Linked DNA regions of Homo sapiens: region 1 is linked to region 2. Evidence: fine-mapped expression QTL. A gene starts in region 2. The other region holds a variant in brackets. All regions are shown on one strand. Distances are between the middles of the regions.

Region 1 (9,293 bases), 19 kb before region 2:
TACAAGCTATTTCATTATCAATCCATGGTTTCTAAAACTTTTAAATACTAGATTTAACCATAAACACACACACACAGCATACACACAAAGCAATACCTGTATGTATGTCAGATACAAAAGACTAGCACACTAAAACAAGTAAGGCCATAAACTCTGATAGCTAATAAAACAGTTAAATACCAACAGTGACATATATGGAATGAAGGTTAGAGTGAACACAACCTAAAACATTTCTAGTTCTGTTTCTCAGAAATCAGAAGGATAGCAAAACCAAATTAAACTCAGGGAAAATATCAACTTGACTGGATTTTCTGAAAGCACATAAAATTCGTATAAAATAACTAAAATCCAATCAATGAATTTAAGAATGTGGTAGACAGAGTAAAACACACGCATAAATTTTATCAGCAGGAACATTTTTTTTCCTTCCTTAGCAAGATTTCCAGAATAAGATATAAAATAGCATTCATTTTGAAGACATATAATATTCAGTGCATGAGGAAGATTAACCTGCCAAGCAATTTAGTAGTAATTTCTATTAATGAAAATAGGGGTCATTTATCAGCCTAATAATTTTTAAGCAATATTATCTCAACATACACATCCTTCAGATAATCTTATTTGCTATAAAAAAGTCAATTAATAATGACCAGCTATGTCTGTAAGGCTTATAACTCTTGTATGCATCTACAGCTAAAAAGTTTGGTCAGGTAATTAATTTGAACTTTCTTACTTTTTTTTAGGCAATAAATTCCTAAATATTTAAATATGATTAAAAAGACTTCATATAGCTTGTTTGTTTGATATATGTTTATATCAAACATATAAAACAAAATATTAAAAGCAAAATCTTAAATTGCTGAAAAATGAGAAGAGACATTTTGCAGAAGTTTCATCAGCAGAGCTGCAGTATTACTTTTCATGTGAAAAGATGGTTGATATGGTTTGGCTGTGTCCCCACCCAAATCTCATCTTGAATTCCCATGTGCTGTGGGAGGGACCTGGTGGGAGGTAACTGGATCATGGGGGCAGGTCTTTCCCATGGTATCCTCATGGTGGTGGGTGAGATCTGATGGTATTATAAGGGAGAGTTTTCCTGTACAAGCTTTTTTTTTTTTTTAATTTTTTTCCTTTGCCTGCTGCCATCCATTAAGATGTGACTTGCTCCTCCTTGCCTTCCCCATGATTGTGAGGCTTCCCCAGCCATATGGAACTGTAAGTCCGATTAAACTTCTTTCTTCTGTAAACTGCCCAGTCTCAGGTATGTCTTTATCAGCAGCATGAAAACTAATACAATAGTCAAATCCTAGGACTAAAAATTTAGTTGTAATTCCACAATGACTTTAATGCAAATAAAATTGTCATTATATATCAGAAAAGAAGTGTAAAGATACACCATTTTAAGCCTTTCATCCAATATATACATACAAATTGCAGTTCTCAGTCATTTTCCCCCATATTTTGTTTTATAATGGCTTAGGTCAATACTTCTCAAACTATCTGTAGTGAAAGATCAGTATTTCCACCAAATCCATCACTGACCAATACTTTTCTAAAATATAAAATCATGTGCTTTAGTTGTTGCAGTAATATTAAATTGCTATAAAAGTTTCTAAATGTTTACTTTTATCTCTGTGCTTATTTCACCATGTCTCTTAACAAAGTTTGTGAATAACACACTTTAAACACCACTGACTTAGATCATAATGCAAATATAACGTATCCCCATAGTGTATCAAACTTTATACCATGCCTCTTCTCCAGAATAAACACAAAATAAATAGACATACTTAATAACAGAGTAGTGTTTCACAGAAACCCCAGGCGATGAAAAGACAGGCAGTAGACGGTAGGGCCTCCAAGAACAGGGGTTAAAGTCAAGATGACCTAAATCTAAATCCTAGCTCTAATACTTACTTAGCAGCTGTATGACCTTGGGCAACATGCTTAATTTTGTCAAACCAGTTTTCCTTATCCATTAAATGAGATGAAAACACTTATACTTGAATGGCTGTCAAAATTAAATAAGTAACATACTAAAGTTATCAGAGTGCTCAGCACATAGAAAATGCTCAAGAAACAGTTGTCGTCATTATTTCCTACGAAATCAAAACAACACTGGGAAGCAAGTATGTTAATTAAGAGGGGTAGTAAGTTATAATTAAGCATCAGATGTGGCTCTGAATTTCTTGGCAGCAAACTGGAAAACTGAGGACTCACTAACCTATCTTGAATTGTCTTGTGAATATTAGTTAAAATGTAGTATTATTGCCAAACATGTTTTATGGCTTTGTTAAACTGTATATATTTAATACACATATTTGATGAGTTCTGACTAGTGCGTGCACCCATAAAACCATCACCACAATCAAGATTCTTCACTACAGTTAAGATACAGAACATTTCCATCATCTTAAACGTTATATCAAACATTTACATCATCTCTGTCAAATGAGCTGTTTTGTTTGAAATTAACTCCCTCCTCTCAATAACCTGCAACTTTCCAGGAGATACAATAACAAACTATTTATTTAATATAACCAGGAAACTTAAAAAAATAAAAATAAAAATTCTAGCTTGTTTAAAGTGATGCAAGTAAATCAAAGTTGCATTTGTAATCTTTCTTCTAGGGGCTGTTAATCGTAGTTTCTCTGACTTGATCTTTAGTCCACTGGACAATTTAGTTGCAATACTTTCAAAGTTACAACTCAGATAAATTGGACCTGAATTGTCATGAAACATAATTTAGTGTCATGTTTTGTCTCACAAATATAACATATATCAATTATAAAAATAAAGCAAAAAAGCTGTTTATGAAAAAAGATAAAAGCTGTAGATTTCTCTGGGCAAGTTATGCCCTATGAAAAAATTAGTAGGTAGTACAGATTTGTTTTTACACTTTATAGCATAAAAAGCTAAAATTTAAATAAGAAATGAAATATTGTATCATACCATCTCAATTTTTAAAAGTTCTGTTTAAATGGTGATAAAAAGTGAGTAGACCTCACTTCAGAATAACAACACAAAGATACTTTGGCTAGTTTGCTTATCACTAGCTGCATTTTCTCTTTCTCTCCTTCCTTTGCCACAAAAGGCAGGGGGAGGGCTGAAAAGAGAAAAGATTCATTATTACTCAATTCCAAAGATGTATCTGGGGACTAAGTGTTTCTAGCACATCCCAAGAATATAAATTAATGAATTATTGTAAGCACCATGCAATGGGGCAAAAAACCCTGCTGTTGTTTTTGAAAGAGAACATCGGAAAAAAAGCTATATAAGTAGATGCTCTTTCCAAACTTTTCTAACTAATGAAAAATTACCATTCAGTAATTGTTACCATCTAACAGATGTAACCATTAATAATCTATTTCATTTTGGTCAACAGTTCTAGGTTCCAATGTTGGCACTGTCACTAAATAATCTTCAGGAATCATTTATTTAGTCAATTCATAAAGCCAGTCACTCCTGAAAGCTGGAAACTTCCCTTGAGTGTTAAAAATATGGATGAAGGCCGGGCATGGTGGCTCACACCTGTAATCCCAGCATTTTGGGAGGTTGAGGCGGGCAGATCACGAGGTCAGGAGATCAAGGCCATCCTGGCCAACATGGTGAAACCCGTCTCTACTAGAAACACAAAAATTAGCTGGGTGTGGTGGTGCATGCCTGTAATCCCAGCTACTGGGGAGGGTGATGCAGGAGAATCGCTTGAACCTCAGAGTTGGAGGTTGCAGTGAGCTGAGATCGCGCCACTGCACTCCAGCCTGGGGACAGAGTGAGACTCCATCTCAAAAAAAAAAAAAAAAAAAAA[AG/G]ATGGAAGACAACACTTACTAGGTATTTTACAAATAGGTTATTGTCACTCATTATAAACCTGATGCTCTGTACTTCCCTAATCTGATCCAATCTCCCATGCCCTTACTGTTGTCTCAAACTTTCAAATGGTATACACTCTAGGAAACTTCAGATATGTGCTCAACAGATCATCAGCCTTTCCTCTGCATGTCCTGTCACCTTCTAGTCTTAATTATGCCATTCCTTTGCTTAAAACCCATCAATGGTTGGCCGGGTGCGGTGGCTCACACCTGTAATCCCAACACTTTGGGAGACCGAGAGGGGTAGATCATGAGGTCAGGATATCGAGACCATCCTGGCTAACACGGTGAAACCCGTCTCTACTAAAAAAATACAAAAGGTTAGCCGGGCATGGCGGCAGGCGCCTGTAGTCCCAACTACTCGGGAGGCTGAGGCAGGAGAATGGCATGAACCTGGGAGGCGGAGCTTGCAGTGAGCTGAGATCGCGCCACTGCACTCCAGCCCGGGCAACAAAGCAAGACTTCATCTCAAAAAAAACCAAAACAAACAAACAAACAAACAAAAAAACAAACATCAATGGTTTTCCCCAAAGCTTGTCCTGTCGCCTTCTAGTCTTAATTATTCTCTGAGGACAAGACCTCTTCTAACCTTACAGTGTACTTACTAAATACCAGGAACTATTCAAGTGCTTCGTGTATTTTAATTAATTTAATCCCAGTTGATCCTTTGCAGTAGGCACTATTACTCACATTTACAAGTAAGGAAACTGAAGGATAGAAATGATATGCAATACAGCTAGTAAATGGGAGAGGTAGGGATTTAAACACAAGCAATTTGGCTTTAGAGTCCTAACTCCTAGTCATTACTCTTCACTTTCACGGAGGCTGTTTTCCTTCTCATACCCATCCTACCTTGGGGTAAAGAGTGTGGAATCTTCCTCTTTATACTCATCTGACAAAACTCCAATCCTGGTTAAACTCAACTACATGTTTTTTTTTGTTTTCAGCCTGAAAATGAGCAACTAAACATTGGAGAAAAAAATCATACAATCAGGTTGACTTAAATTGAGAAGCACAAACTTCAAACAGGTACTCAACACTATCCTAACCCACTGTTTCCTTAGTAAATTTAAGTTCTTGACACAACTATTTCATACCTTCTCTTCTCAAAATCCTAATACTGTCTTCCCTCCATCATTGCTAAAGATCTAGTTTCAAACTTAAGAAAATGGAAGCAAAAAGAATATTCTTACCTTCCCTCCAACAAATCTGTAACCTATCTTCACCTATACCCATATTCTCTACTTTTCTTTCCATTATGAAGGACAAAGGACCTTCCTCCCAGTAAAGGCCTCCCTCTTGCTGTGTTCTGAATCTGGTCTCCTCTTGCCTTCCCAAGGACTATTAGCTCAGGCTCCTTCAATACTATCAGTTTCTTTTCCTGTCTACAGCCTAAAGTCTACCCCCCGAATCTCTCATGGTCTAAAACTAAAACTAAAACTAAAACTAAAATTAAAACCCATAGCCTTTCCTTGACCCCCACAGGCTCTCTGGCTGCCAACCCATTTCTTTATTCTCTCATAGCAAAACCTGAAAGATTTCTCTATATTTGCTATTTTTTCCTTATCTTTTATTCACTCTTCAGACTCCGTGAAATGCCTATGGGACTGTCCCTCCAGGAAAAAAACCCGTATAAAAATCACCCATAATGTGCTTTAACCAAAGCCAAAGGTCACTTCTGTAGCCCCTCATTTTATTCAACTCAGCAGTATTCAATACCTTGTTTTTGGCTTCCGGGACTCTTCCCTCTCAAGGTTTGTTATCTCTTAGCCTCTTTTTTTCAGTTTATGTTGGCTTCTCTTTTCTATTCAATTTTAAATGCTGAGGTACAGCTGAGTCTTGAAAAACATGCAATTTGAGTTGCATGGGTCCGTTTCTTCGTGGATTTTCTTCCACTTCTACTACCTACCCAAGACAGCAAGACCAACCTCTCTTCTTTCTCCTCCTCTTCCTCTGCCCACTCACAGTGAAGACAATGAGGTTCATGAAGATCTTTGTGATGATCCACTTCCACTTAATGAACAGTACATATATTTTCTCTTATGGTTTTCTTACTATTTTCTTTTCTCTAGCTTATTTCATTATAAGAATACAGCATATTATACATATAACCTACAAATGTGTTAATCAACCATTTATGTTACCAGTAAGGCTTCCAGTCTATAGTAGGCTATTAGTAAAGTTTTTGGGGAGTCAAAAATTATACGTGGATTTTCGATTCATGGGTCAGCCTTACTTCAAGGTTCAATCAGGAACCCTCCTCTCTTCTTTCCCTTTAGGTTATCTCCTATAGTCCTATAGCTCCAATAGCATCTGTTAACTGATGTGTCCTAAATCTATACCTGCCACTTTTCCTCTTCTATTATTCTAACCAGTTATAGCCCACTCCAGCACACCACTGATTCCTGCTTCTATTCTTGAGAGTCTGCATAATTCATCCTCCACAGAGAAGCCAGAGACACATTATGTCATTCCTTTGCCTAAAACCTGTCAATGGCGATAGAGCGAGACTCTGTCTCAAAATAACATAACATAACATAACATAACATAACATAACATAACATAACATAACATAACATAAAATACCGCAAAAAACCCATCAATGGTTTTCCTCAAAGCTTGTCCTGGTCACCTTCTAGTCTTAATTATTCTCTAAGGATAAGACCTCTTCTGATACAGCAGAAACAGCAACATCTTAGCTATACCCTAAATACAAATATTCCAATACAAAGCTTAGAATAATATCCAAACTCAAATACACCAATTTTTTTTGCATTCTAGGCATTTTGTTCTTGCTATTCTCTACATTTAAAATCTCTTTGGTCAACTCTATGTGACAGATTTCTTCCCGTCCTCCAGTAATATCAAACCCTACCAAAAGTTCTTTCTGATCAGTCTAAGTAGCCTGCCTGGGGCCAAACTCTTACCACATACCCTATAACATCACATTATTTCCTTATTAGCATTTGTTACACTTTGAAATTTTCCTATTTATTTGCTTGTTTCCTGTCTATCATCTCTCAATGGGATGCAAATACTATGAAGTCAATAGCCTTATCTTAGTTGTTCATACCTGCATCGGCAGTCCCATAATAGTGGCTGATAAACAGTAGGGCCTCAAATATAATCTGAATAAATGAACTAATCTATCAACGACAATATAGTTAAACCATTTTCGTTTGTTTTTTCTGAGAAAAGCTTTGTAGAAGAAAAATAAAAAGCAGAACTACAGTTCTATTTCTTAACTAGTATAGTCACACTTGACCTTACTCTCCTCAAATACAGAATACATTCACATGGCTATTAAGTGCTTTAAAAAACAGATTGCCTAAGAACATTTATAAAAATGTGTACATTCCAGTTACACTTTTAAAAAACTGGCTCAGTTTAATCTGTATTAAACATAACTATCTAAATGTGAAGGAAGTCATTCCAGCCCTGTGAAAGGAGATTTAAAAAATCCTATTTAGGCTGGGTGCAGTGGCTCATGCTTGTAATCCCAGCACTTTGGGAGGCCAAGGCAGGCAGATCACTTGAGGCCAGGAGTTCGAGACCAGCCTGGCCAACATGGTGAAACCATCTCTACTAAAAAAAAAAAAAAATACAAAAATTAGCCAGGTGTGGTGGTGCGTGCCTGTAATCCCAGCCTCTTGGGTGGCTGAGGCACAAGAATCGCTTGAACCCAGGAGGTAGAGGCTGCAGTGAGCCAAAATGGTGCCACTGTACTCCAGCCTGGGCTACAAAGCAAGACTCTGTCTCAAAAAAAACAAAACAAAACAAAAAAAACAAACTACTTAGGTATGATACTCCCAGACGTCGAAGTCAAATCTTTTCAAATTAATTAGCTGCAAATCTCAAGCTGGAGAAAAATTTGGAAAAAGTTTTATTATACTTTATGTACTTATTTATAGTCATGCATTGCTTGATGGGAATATGTTCTGAGATGTGTTGTTGGGTGATTTAGTTATTGTGTGAACATTCATAGAACATGCTTAAACAGACATAATGGTAAACCCTACTACACATCCTGGCTATATGGTATAACCTATTGCTCCTAGGCTGCAAACCTGTACAGCATGTTATATATTGAATACTGTAGGTAACTGTAACACAACAGTAAGTATTTGTGTACCTAAAAATAGAAAAGTACAGTAAAATACAGTATTAAAACCTTACGGGACCACTGTTACATAGGTGGGCCATCATTGAAATGTTATACAGCATATGACTATTTATATTTTCACTTTAGGTCTCAGAAAAGCTATACGAATAAAAACCTAAGACACAAGAGGTTTAAAAGCCCATAGATCTGCCAAGGTGACAGTGAAGCTGATTTAACTTTACGATTTCTTTTTTTACCAAGTAAATATACACAAAATTATATACGTTATTAAAAATTGTCTCTGAATGCTATAAAATCAGATTCTTTCTCATTTCAAATTCTGTGATTTCTGGTACACATAGCAATATGAAAATATTAATTTTAGAAAATACAAAACATAAGCACCATTTATAACTTGGAATGAGCCATTAGCAGGTAGGTGGGATTCTACTTTAAGCTTCAAATGGCAAACAGCCATAATAATAAACACTTAAGCACATACCCTTGAGTTACAAAGGATCATCCTGTCTCCAAAGCATAGTAGCCAAATAAACATTGTCCACGTATTACTCAAGATGATGATAATAATCACAGTTGATACTGACTTACAAATTACTCTGTGCCAGGCACTATACTAAGCCCTTTCATGTGAATTATCTCATGTATCTTCACAATACATCCATGAGGTAGATATACACATGAATCCATGTTCATATAAGGCAATTAGTGTTCAAGGTGCCACAGAGAATAAAAGGAAGAACCAGGAAGAACTCTGGCAGACTGACTCCTGGAATTGGCCCTTAATCAGTATCTTTCTGAACTTTTTTTTTTTTTTTTAAACCACAAGTCTTAATTCTCCTGCATGACATATTCTACCTCTCCTCTCTCATTAACTTTTTTCAAAAAACTTTTCCGGCTATATAGATTTCTTTCTTAGAAATTGTACTTAAAAAAAAACTATAATAATGTAAATACATATGTTATTCTTCCTAGACCTTGAATGAAGCACAGGGACCAAAGCTCAACTCAAAATACCCCAAGTGGTTCACCACTCAATACTGATAGTGTTTAAAATATAAGGCAAAAATGATCATGATTCTGATACAGAAGTTTTTATTTTTGGTTGTTATCTATAAAAGAGTGGGTTTTTGGCCAGGCATGGTGGCTCATGCCTGTAATCCCAGCACTTCAGGAGGCTGAGGCGGGTGGATCACCTGAGGTCAGGAGTTTGAGACCAGCCTGGCCAACATGGTGAAATCCCATCTCTAATAAAAATACAAAAATTAGCTGGGCGTGGTGGCAGGCACCTGTAATCCCAGCTA
Region 2 (9,293 bases):
GGCAGCCTCAAGTTATGGAATCAGGTAGGTTTGGGGAACAGTGCTTTGAGGACAGCCTTCCAAAAAATGTCAGAGGCCATATTTTGTTTCTGGAACCCCTCATTCAGGCTCAAAAGTGAACTGCTGGCCAGGTGTGGTGGCTCACACCTGTAATCCCAGCACTTTGGGAGGCCAAGGCGGGCAGATCACCTGAGGTCAGGAGATAGAGACCAGCCTGGCCAACATGGTGAAACCCTGTATCTATTTAAAAAATACAATAAAAATTAGCTGGGCATGGTGGCACATGCCCGTAGTCCCAGCTACCTGGAAGGCTGATGCAGGAGAATCGCTCGAACCCAGGAGGTAGAGGTTGCAGTGAGCCGAGATCATGCCACTGCACTCCAGCCTGGGCAAAAGAGTGAGAGTCTGTCTCAAAAAAAAAGAAAAAGGAAAAAAAAGTGAACTGCTACTTGGTGGTAATGCTGTATATAATATGGAAGTCATTCAAACACTTATTTCTTCCAAAATGTCAGAGACTAACTTTAAAGCAAGTACTGTACTATGTTCTATTTTTTCACAGGCCAGCAGGAGAAAAACCTCTCCAGGAAATTTTTAAACTGTTAAGCATGTATGGAAAAGCCACTGTGCCAGCTGCATCATTCTGAACAGAAGCAAAAAGCATAATCAGTGCTCTGCGATGGCATTTGGGGTATATAAAAAAATTCTAGCTATGTAGAATATTCGATAAAAATAACACATATTCTAAAGGTTTCAGGTAGCTGATACTTTATAGTACCTTTTCATAATATAATAGCACAATCAAAAGCAACTGAAAAATGTAGGGCTATTTACCTGTATAATTCAAAGGACTAAGATTGCAGTATTTTTATGATTTTCTGATTATAGTCAGCTGTCACTTCTAAATGATGACAATTTACCTATATTGCTTCTGTACTGCTCCCTTATTTTACAGTGAGAAGCAGGAAAGAAACCACTTGTTTGTGAAATAAATGCTATGCATCCAAGATGGCTCTTTACTTACTTCCAATTTTTTAGGTTGTATCCCAGAACCTTATATTAACAGGAATCTCACTCCACCCTGGACTACAGAGCCCCGTCTCAAAAACAAAAACAAAACCCAGGAATCTGACCTCTTGGTGAGTAGCAAATGATTGTGTGTACTGATAAACTTATCACCACTCAGGTTAATTTTTTTTTTTTGGAAACCGTTAACACCAAATGAAAGGGTCTATTTACTCAAGCTCTTTGTTCATGAACACGAAATAACAGCAAATGTTAGGCTCATAATATGGATATATGCCTATAAGTAACTCCAGCAACTTTAAATACAAAATGTATTTTACAAAATAAGAGCAGGGAATTTATTTTCCAGTATGTTCATACGAAACTCCTTCCACAGGAGAGTAGAAGGTGTCATCTCAGGAGGAAAAAGTCTAGAAATGTCTTCGGCAGGATTAAAATATAAAAATATAGCTATATAAAACTTAAGTGATGAGAGAAAAAACTAAAGGAGATAGGAGATTATTTTAACTTTATTACCTCATCTACTCATACAGGAGCTTTGCCAGATAAACATTATATTAACATTTCATCACTCCTGAATCAACAGTCATCACTTTGTCATATAACAGGTTCCCACTTGTTTTCTGATTTAGATTTTAGATTCAAATGTTTATCTTAAGGCTAATGTACCCTAGTAGGATGTAACATCAGTAACATTCAGAACATTTTTGAAAAAATAAAGACATATCTGATTCAAGAATATTATCTTTGTACTATTTTTTAAAGTAACTTTTTTTACTATATTTTTTAAGGTAATTGTAGTACACTTTTTAATTTACAATTAAGGCTTTGTTTCTCAATTATTGCACAGATAAAATTCTAAGGAATTTTCAAGCACTGATTAACTTAGTATCTACAAAAATTTGGGCCACCAAATGGAGACGTGGGATGATTTTATAAGATCCGAGGGCAGAGCTAAGTGACACTGAATTAAATGAGGAGGGGCCGGACACAGTGGCTCATGTCTGTAATCCCAGCATTTTGAGAGGCAGAGGCGAGGCGGATAACCTGAGGTCAGGAGTTTGAGACCAGCGTGACCAACATGGCGAAACCCTGTCTCTGCTAAAAATACAAAAGTTAGCCCGGTGTGATGGTGGGTGCCTGTAATACCAGCTAATCAGGAGGCTGAGGCAGGAGAATACCTTGAATCCGGGAGGCAGAGGTTGCAGTGAGCTCACTCCACTGCACTCCAGCCTGGATGACAGAGTGAGACTCCATTTCAAAAAAAAAAAGGTTACTTCCTCTTCATTCTCTTTCAGTTCCTCTGACTGTATCAAGAAGAAAGTCTCAGTTTGGTGCCAAGATGTTAACACCACTGAAATTCTTGCCAATCTCACTTTTAAACAAAGGGCAAGTTTTAGGCTTAGAGCCTCCTGCAGGCAATAGTTTCTAGTTAGAAATTAAGGGGACTTTGATTTTCATTATTTTTACGTATACGTCCACCTTCTGTTTATGGCAAGTGCCACCTGCTTTTTACTCAAAGTTATTCCAAGTTTCCTTTAAAATATTACTTTAATAATCACATTGATATAAAGAAATATTAATAACTAAACAGGAAGTATGCCAAACAGGAAGATATGGCCAAAATTTTGAAGATGATATCACAAAGACTGAAGTTGAGGAAATATTACATTAATCCATTTGGTCAACAAATAAGTGCCTGCTATATGTTTGCCACTGGGTTAGCCACCACAAAGAACAGAGAAGAATGATGAAAAAAAAAAATGTGAAAAGGAAAGTCAGAAGAGGAGGAAATTAATTCAAAATGAGGTAATCAAAAAAAGGTTCACAGGGTGGCATTTGAGCTAGGTCTTAAAGGTATAATTTAGACACTCAGAAACAGAAGAACATTCTCAGAGAGTAAAAGTATAACTATATGTGCCTGAGTGGTGGCATCTTCCAAATCTTGATTGTGGTGGTAGCTACACGGGTGCATATATATCTACTAAAACTTATTGAAATGTACACTTAAATGAATGTACATCAGTATATATAAATTTTTCCTTAATAAATTTGATACTATATAATTGACCAATGCAATGAAAGGTCATTGAGATTTCAGGCTTGGATAGCTTGGAGAGGAGGAAGTAAATACAATAAAGGAAAAAGGGAAACCGCCAGTTAAAGACAAGGGTATCATATTTTCATACAATTCTCAATAAAAACTGTTAACTATTACACAAAAAATATTAGCTTTATATTTCTACTTAATAGTTTTATTCCAGGGAGATAATTTACCTGAATTAACGCTTATCTATTAAAATTACATGTTCTCTTCCCACCTCTCCTATCTGCAAGCAAAATTGTGCATTAACAGCATTCACCCTAAGAAAGTAATAAAGAATGAACAGAATATCCACACTGGTGGTGTACTAGTGACACTTAACAGACTTTAGCAAAACAGTTTAAGATTGTGTTCAGCACACATCCTGTTTGTAAAGCAATTTAGAAGTAACTGTCTCAAAATTTGTGTTTTAGCCTTTAGCTCTTTTCCATGATATAAGCTCTTAAAATAGGTAGTTATTACACAGTAAGCACATTTTGGGTGGCTTCTACCATAATTTCATTTTAGGAATGCATGACTATAAGGAGAAATCATCACAGCAAAAGTGATGCCATTATCAACAAGTCTTCACTTGTTGGAACCTCAAAATGCCATTTTGAATAAAATCAATAACTACACTCCACCATCAAATTCAAAACATGAATTATGGTTTTAAAAAAGTCAAAAAACCAGAAAGAATAAGATAAGTCTTCTGCCAATAATTAAAGCATTAAGACTCATGGGAACTTAAGTGTATCATTAATATTTTACTAAGAAAAATATAATTTTTTTTATACAAGTGAGTTGCCACTAGATCTTCATGCTCCAAAAAGTTTAAAATGACAGCCAAAAAATAAGCCTAATGCATGGACCTTTACAGTTGAAGAGGACTCAGCTTAAGTACAGCAGTTTTTAAATTTATATTCTATGTAATTATATTCTAAGAGTTGTTAACCATTTGGCCATGAGAAAATAGATCAGGTAAATTTGGGAATGCTAGGATAACCTTCTGGAGATTTACATGTATCAGCATAACAGTAAAGGTTTTGAAGAGTCCTGCCTTTATAAGCAAAAAAGTTAAACCTAGTTTAACCTAGTGTGCTCCCAAATTATTTGCCATTGAACACTGCTTTGGGGAAAGTAAGCCTATTAAATGGTTTTAGAACACTGTTCTGGGGGAAACATCAGTTTGGAAAACCCTGGTCTTTTCAAATTTCCTTAAACAATGACAAAACCGAAGCCTGGAGATCACACCTGGTTAGTAGCAGATTAAAGCACTTGAATCTAATCTCTTCATTCCCAGGCCAGAGCTCACTCCTTTACTTTAACTACAAAATAGGACTTCTTTGAATGTATACAAACATTTAACTGACAACACTTACCTTACATTTAAGATTTGGGTTATGGTGTCACATTTTCTGGTTTGTGTATTAAATCAGGTGTTTTTAGTTCCTTCAGCACTAGGTACCTAATAATCAAGCCCACGTGGAGATTTGCTACTGCTTAACAATTACAGAGAATGATTTAGTTATCAGTTGTGGCCGAAAGTAATCACTAAAATAAAGCATTTAGACTACTCGTGGTTTTAATTTACTCATAACTTCAGTCGGCCCACCTAAATCACTGTGTTATCTATCAGGTGGTGAGTTACTTAGCACATAATGCCGACGTATGTTATTCACTGTAGACCATATTAATACCCACAAACAAAATTAAAATGTGAGAACTTATGTCTGCATAGACAATGGCCAACAACATCAAAACAGATTTTTCTCTCTCTACAGTTCAGGGCCTATTTGTCAGGCAAACAGTTTCCTACATTTTTGGTAATTATCATTTTTTTTGACTGCTTTAGCTGGAGTCGAAGTCATTTTCCCAATCTTTACATTTCTCAAACGCCATAGAACTCTAAGATAGTGTAAAAATGTTCAAACACAATTTACTTAGCTTAAGAAAAATAGTTGTGTGCCATTCCCCGCCCCCCTCAGGGTACAGGAATGGAGGAGGCCCGAACAAGTGACTATTGTTATGTTGCAACTTTAAAAGGCTTAGGAATCAAAGGTGATAATTGTTAACAACACCCGTTTGACTCTTCTGACTTCCTCTTAATAAACTTCGGTACTCCTTTCTAAGCCCCACGGAGAACATGAACCATCGCGGGCCTACGTGTCTCCTCAATGCTAAAAGAACCCACCAGCCGAGAAGGCACAACGCCTCGATTCCTTCAACAAAGAGGGTACTCCGCACGCCTCCATCGCACAGGTGCGACCTCTGCCCCAGCCTTGCGCACCGCTCCGCCCCAGCAGGGGAGGCTCGGGACCTGTCCCCGGCTCCCCGGCCCCGCCTCCGGCCTCCCTCACCTGGGGCCGCCCTCGCGCCTCTGCCCGGCCCAGGCCCCGGCCCCAGCCCTGGCCCTCCAGTCCCCGCGCAGCTCCCGACTCCCCGTAAACCAGAGGGCGGCCGACCAGCTTCGCAGCTCCTGGCGGGGCCGGAGCGGCAACACCCCCGACGCCACAGCAGTCAGACTCGCAAGGCGTCCCCGCGGCTCAGGACCTAGCCGGGCCGAGAAGGATGCTCGGAGCCGGCTACCAGCCTAGCGGCCGCACTGGGGGCAGGGACGCTTTTACCTGCTGCTGGCTCGGCCGCTTCTCGCCGGCGCAGCTCTCCTGGCAACCACGGCAGCTACACCGAGACCGGGAGCCGAAGGGCCTAGTGACAGCTCCCAGAGTGCACCGTGCTCGCGCCCACGCCGGCGTCGACGTCTGAGGCCTTCGATCCCCGCCCCCGATCGGCTTCCTGCCTCCCGGCGCTAGCTGTTGCCACAGCGCCCTCAAGTGGACTGTCGCGGGAAGCGGCCATGGCTACCAATTTCAGGAGTGGCTAGAAAGGGGGTTAGCAGATGTTTTCATTTGAAGAGATAATAGGAACTGAAAACAGCTTTTAAATATTATTTGAATAGTTTCTCAATATTTCATATGAGTAACCTGCATCCCAGAGAGGTTAGGAGACTTGTGAAGTTAGGAGACAAGTAGTTGGTGTCAGATTTGGAACTATTTTGAGTCTAGAGCTCTATCAATCATATCTAGTTACTCCAAGGTAAATTGCACCGTTTTGCCAACACCATACCGTAAAAAAATGAAAGTTTTTACAAATACGTAACTAAATATATAAAAATCTTTTAAGCTAACAAAACAATTATAAAGAGTAAGTTGTGCTACGGAAGTTGTATATTTCAATATAATGTGTCAATATTTAAGCATTCAATAGCCTCGGGTACTAAAGGTGGAAGATATGAAGAGTTGAAATCATCATCCTTCAAATAGATGAATTATTTGAGACCAAATAATAGTAAACTTTATTTTTTTAAGTGAGTTGTTGCTTCCATCTATAACTTCAAATTATTGTGATAGATATAATAATTTGTGCATCAACATAATAAACTTTAATCACCCCAAATACTGATTTTAGAAAAATTGTCAAGCTATTATCTTAAAATATATGACAGGATTTATTTATTTAGAATTTATTTATGGTTTAGGCTGGGCATGGTGGCTCACACCTGTAATCTCAGCACTTTGGGAGGCCAAGGTGGGCGGATCTACCAAAAACAGAAAAATTAGCCGGGCATGGTGGCGCGTGCGCCTGTAATCCCAGCTACTCGGGAGGCTGAAGCAGGAGAATCGCTTGAACCCAGGAGGCAGAGGTTGCAGTGAGCCGAGATCGCGCCACTGCACTCCAGCCTTGGCGACAGAGCGAGACTCCGAAAAAAAATAAATAAATAAAAGCAGCTCCTTGTTTTTAAGAAGCCCTATTGTAATTCTACCCGGTCTTATATTTTAATAGTTCTTCATTATAAGTATTTACATTATACCAGGTTCTTTACTGTGTCAAACTTTTCAAAACTATCTTCTGGTAGTAAACTTCTCCAACTTCTCTTAGTTTTTACTTTTGTGAAAGTGAATAGTGGAGCTGTACATACGTAATCATTCTCATCTTCCTTTTTTACCCCCTAAAAAATGGTTAGTCCTGATAGACTTCAGCCACACTCTTCTGCATTAGGTAACAAAGAACTTCCTTATATTTTTGCACCTGTTTCAATTTTGGAGCTATCCTGTCTAAGTTGAGAAGCAATGGCAAGTCAATTCTTGAAAATTTTGTCGCTTTAGATAGAGGCTAACAAACGACCCTTGTTCATAAAGAGACCAAGATAAAGTGGGTTTGGGGCCGGGAATTCTGTTCTTGCATCTCCTGGGGACAAAGCCCACCTGTAACACTTGCCTCCATCATCTCCCTCCCTTCGAGCTAGCCAAAGGTGTGAACCCTGGGTCTGATTTTTATGGTCATTTCCAGGGATGCTAACGCGCCAAGTCACGCTCATAAGAAGCAGAGTGGGGCGATAGCTAGCCTCTCGCCGCCCACCTTTCTCAGCACTCTGGGCCAAAGCCTGGTTTTGAAAATGCGCGCCCCGCCCCGGCCTCCGGGGTCACGCGCCTTCTCGGTGGTGCACTCTCCGGCCGGCAGGTGGCGCTGTGAGCTGGTAGGCGGCGCCAGCCCTGCGATCTGGCACAGGCGCCTGCGCCGCAGCGGGGCTGCCGCTGGTTGGTCCGCACGTGGAACCTCTCCTGGTCCTGTTGACCCGGGCCCCTCGGAACCTCCAGCTTGGTCCGGTCTGGGACTGGAAGCCTGCCATGGCGGCTTCTGCGGCGGAGACGCGCGTGTTTCTGGAGGTGCGGGGACAGCTGCAGAGCGCGCTTCTGATCCTGGGGTAAGAACTGGGATTCTAGGCGCAGTGCCCAGCTCGCTTTACTGCTGCCCGGGGGTCGGGGGCTGGTGAGTCTCTCTCTGTACGAGGGATTTTGAGTTTCTTCTTTCCAGTTGCGTAGAGCCTCTCGATCACTCAAAGTGAAGCTTTCCCCTGTAGTCGGCTCCGCCACTCCCACCCCTACTGACAGTGTGGGTATCTTTGGGGAGCTTTTTAGAAATTCAGGGTCTCAGCTCCACACCAGACTTATGGAATCAAAACTTATATTTTAACAAGATTTCCAGGAATCAAATGCACATTAAAATTTGAGGAACAGTGATGTAAAACACTGTTGGCAGTGCCCGGCGTTTCCAACAAAACAATGCAAAAAATGATTTGTCTGTCTCTCTTCGGGATCCTCCTTACTGGATCAGTTCCTATGTGAGCTTCTTGTTTTGTAAATAACCTCGGGTCTTTTCGTCCAAAACTGCTCTTTGCAGAGAAACCACACAATCATTCAATAAACGTGAGTTTAGTGAACCACTAAGACAGGTTGTAGACTTCTTACTGGAGCTCGTTCATTTATTCATATTCTTCCTTCCAGTGAGAACGTCAAACTTGTTATTCGCTACACAAATAACTTTTAGGAAAAATGTTCTCTATTTTGTTTGACAGCAGTTTTAATGATTTGTGGTCCCCTTGTCTATTCCTTTGTGATCGCTGTTTCAAAGAGAGTAAGTTAGAAGTTAAAATCCTGAGAATGGTATTACACGGTGCCACAGGTAGATTGATGCTTAATTTTTTCCTCTTCCCTAAATCTGCCAGATATCTGGTGTGGCAATTTGGAATATGGCGTGAGAACTGAGTTCAAATGCTAGCTTCCTCACGAAATTAGAATAATTTAATCTGAATTTCTTCAATCTTGAAATGGGAATAATAGTACTCTGAATGTATTTCTTTTTCTCTTTCAAAATTTATGAATTTGGACAAATATCTCCAATTCTGGTGCACCTTGTAGAGTAATTAGGAACCCAAACCCTACCAAAATAAAACAAAAACCACACACACACAACAAACCCTCCCTTCCTCTCATGCAGGGGCCTTTCACAGTTCCCTTGGACTACTCTCCTTTGTTTAGGCAAGGTACCCGGGTGGCTCATGCCTGTAATCCCAGCACATTGGGAGGCTGAGGCGGGCGGATCACGAGGTCAAGAGATCAAGACCATCCTGGCCAACATGGTGAAACCCTGTCTCTACTAAAAATACAAAAATTAGCTGGGTGTGGTGGCGCGCACCTTTAGTCAGTCCCAGCTACTCAGGAGGCTGAGGCAGGAGAATGGAGTGAACCCGGGAGGCGGAGGTTGCAGTGAGCTGAGATCGCGCCACTGCAGTTCAGCCTGGCAACAGAAAGAGACTCCGTCTCAAAAAATAAAAAATAAAAAGAAA

What was found. PIP is the estimated chance that this variant, and not a neighbour inherited with it, causes the effect.
Region 1: its variant is fine-mapped to the expression of DOP1A in neutrophils (BLUEPRINT, PIP 0.95).

The regions. Positions count from the first base shown.
Region 1 is chr6:83,082,936-83,092,228 of GRCh38, reverse strand. All of the region lies in intron 1 of DOP1A (DOP1 leucine zipper like protein A), which reads right to left. Among named protein-coding and RNA genes, the nearest start is that of DOP1A, 20 kb to the right of the region's middle. RefSeq lists an enhancer at 5,236-5,385. The variant AG/G (reference allele first, on the strand shown) is at 3,809.
Region 2 is chr6:83,064,220-83,073,512 of GRCh38, reverse strand. DOP1A (DOP1 leucine zipper like protein A) reads right to left here and starts at 5,842. Exons shown (of 39, transcript NM_015018.4): 1 at 5,734-5,842. It overlaps UBE3D (ubiquitin protein ligase E3D), which reads left to right and starts at 7,672. Exons shown (of 10, transcript NM_198920.3): 1 at 7,672-7,871. The coding sequence starts at 7,795. RefSeq lists enhancers at 2,259-2,318, 5,784-5,933, 5,964-6,033 and a silencer at 5,344-5,613.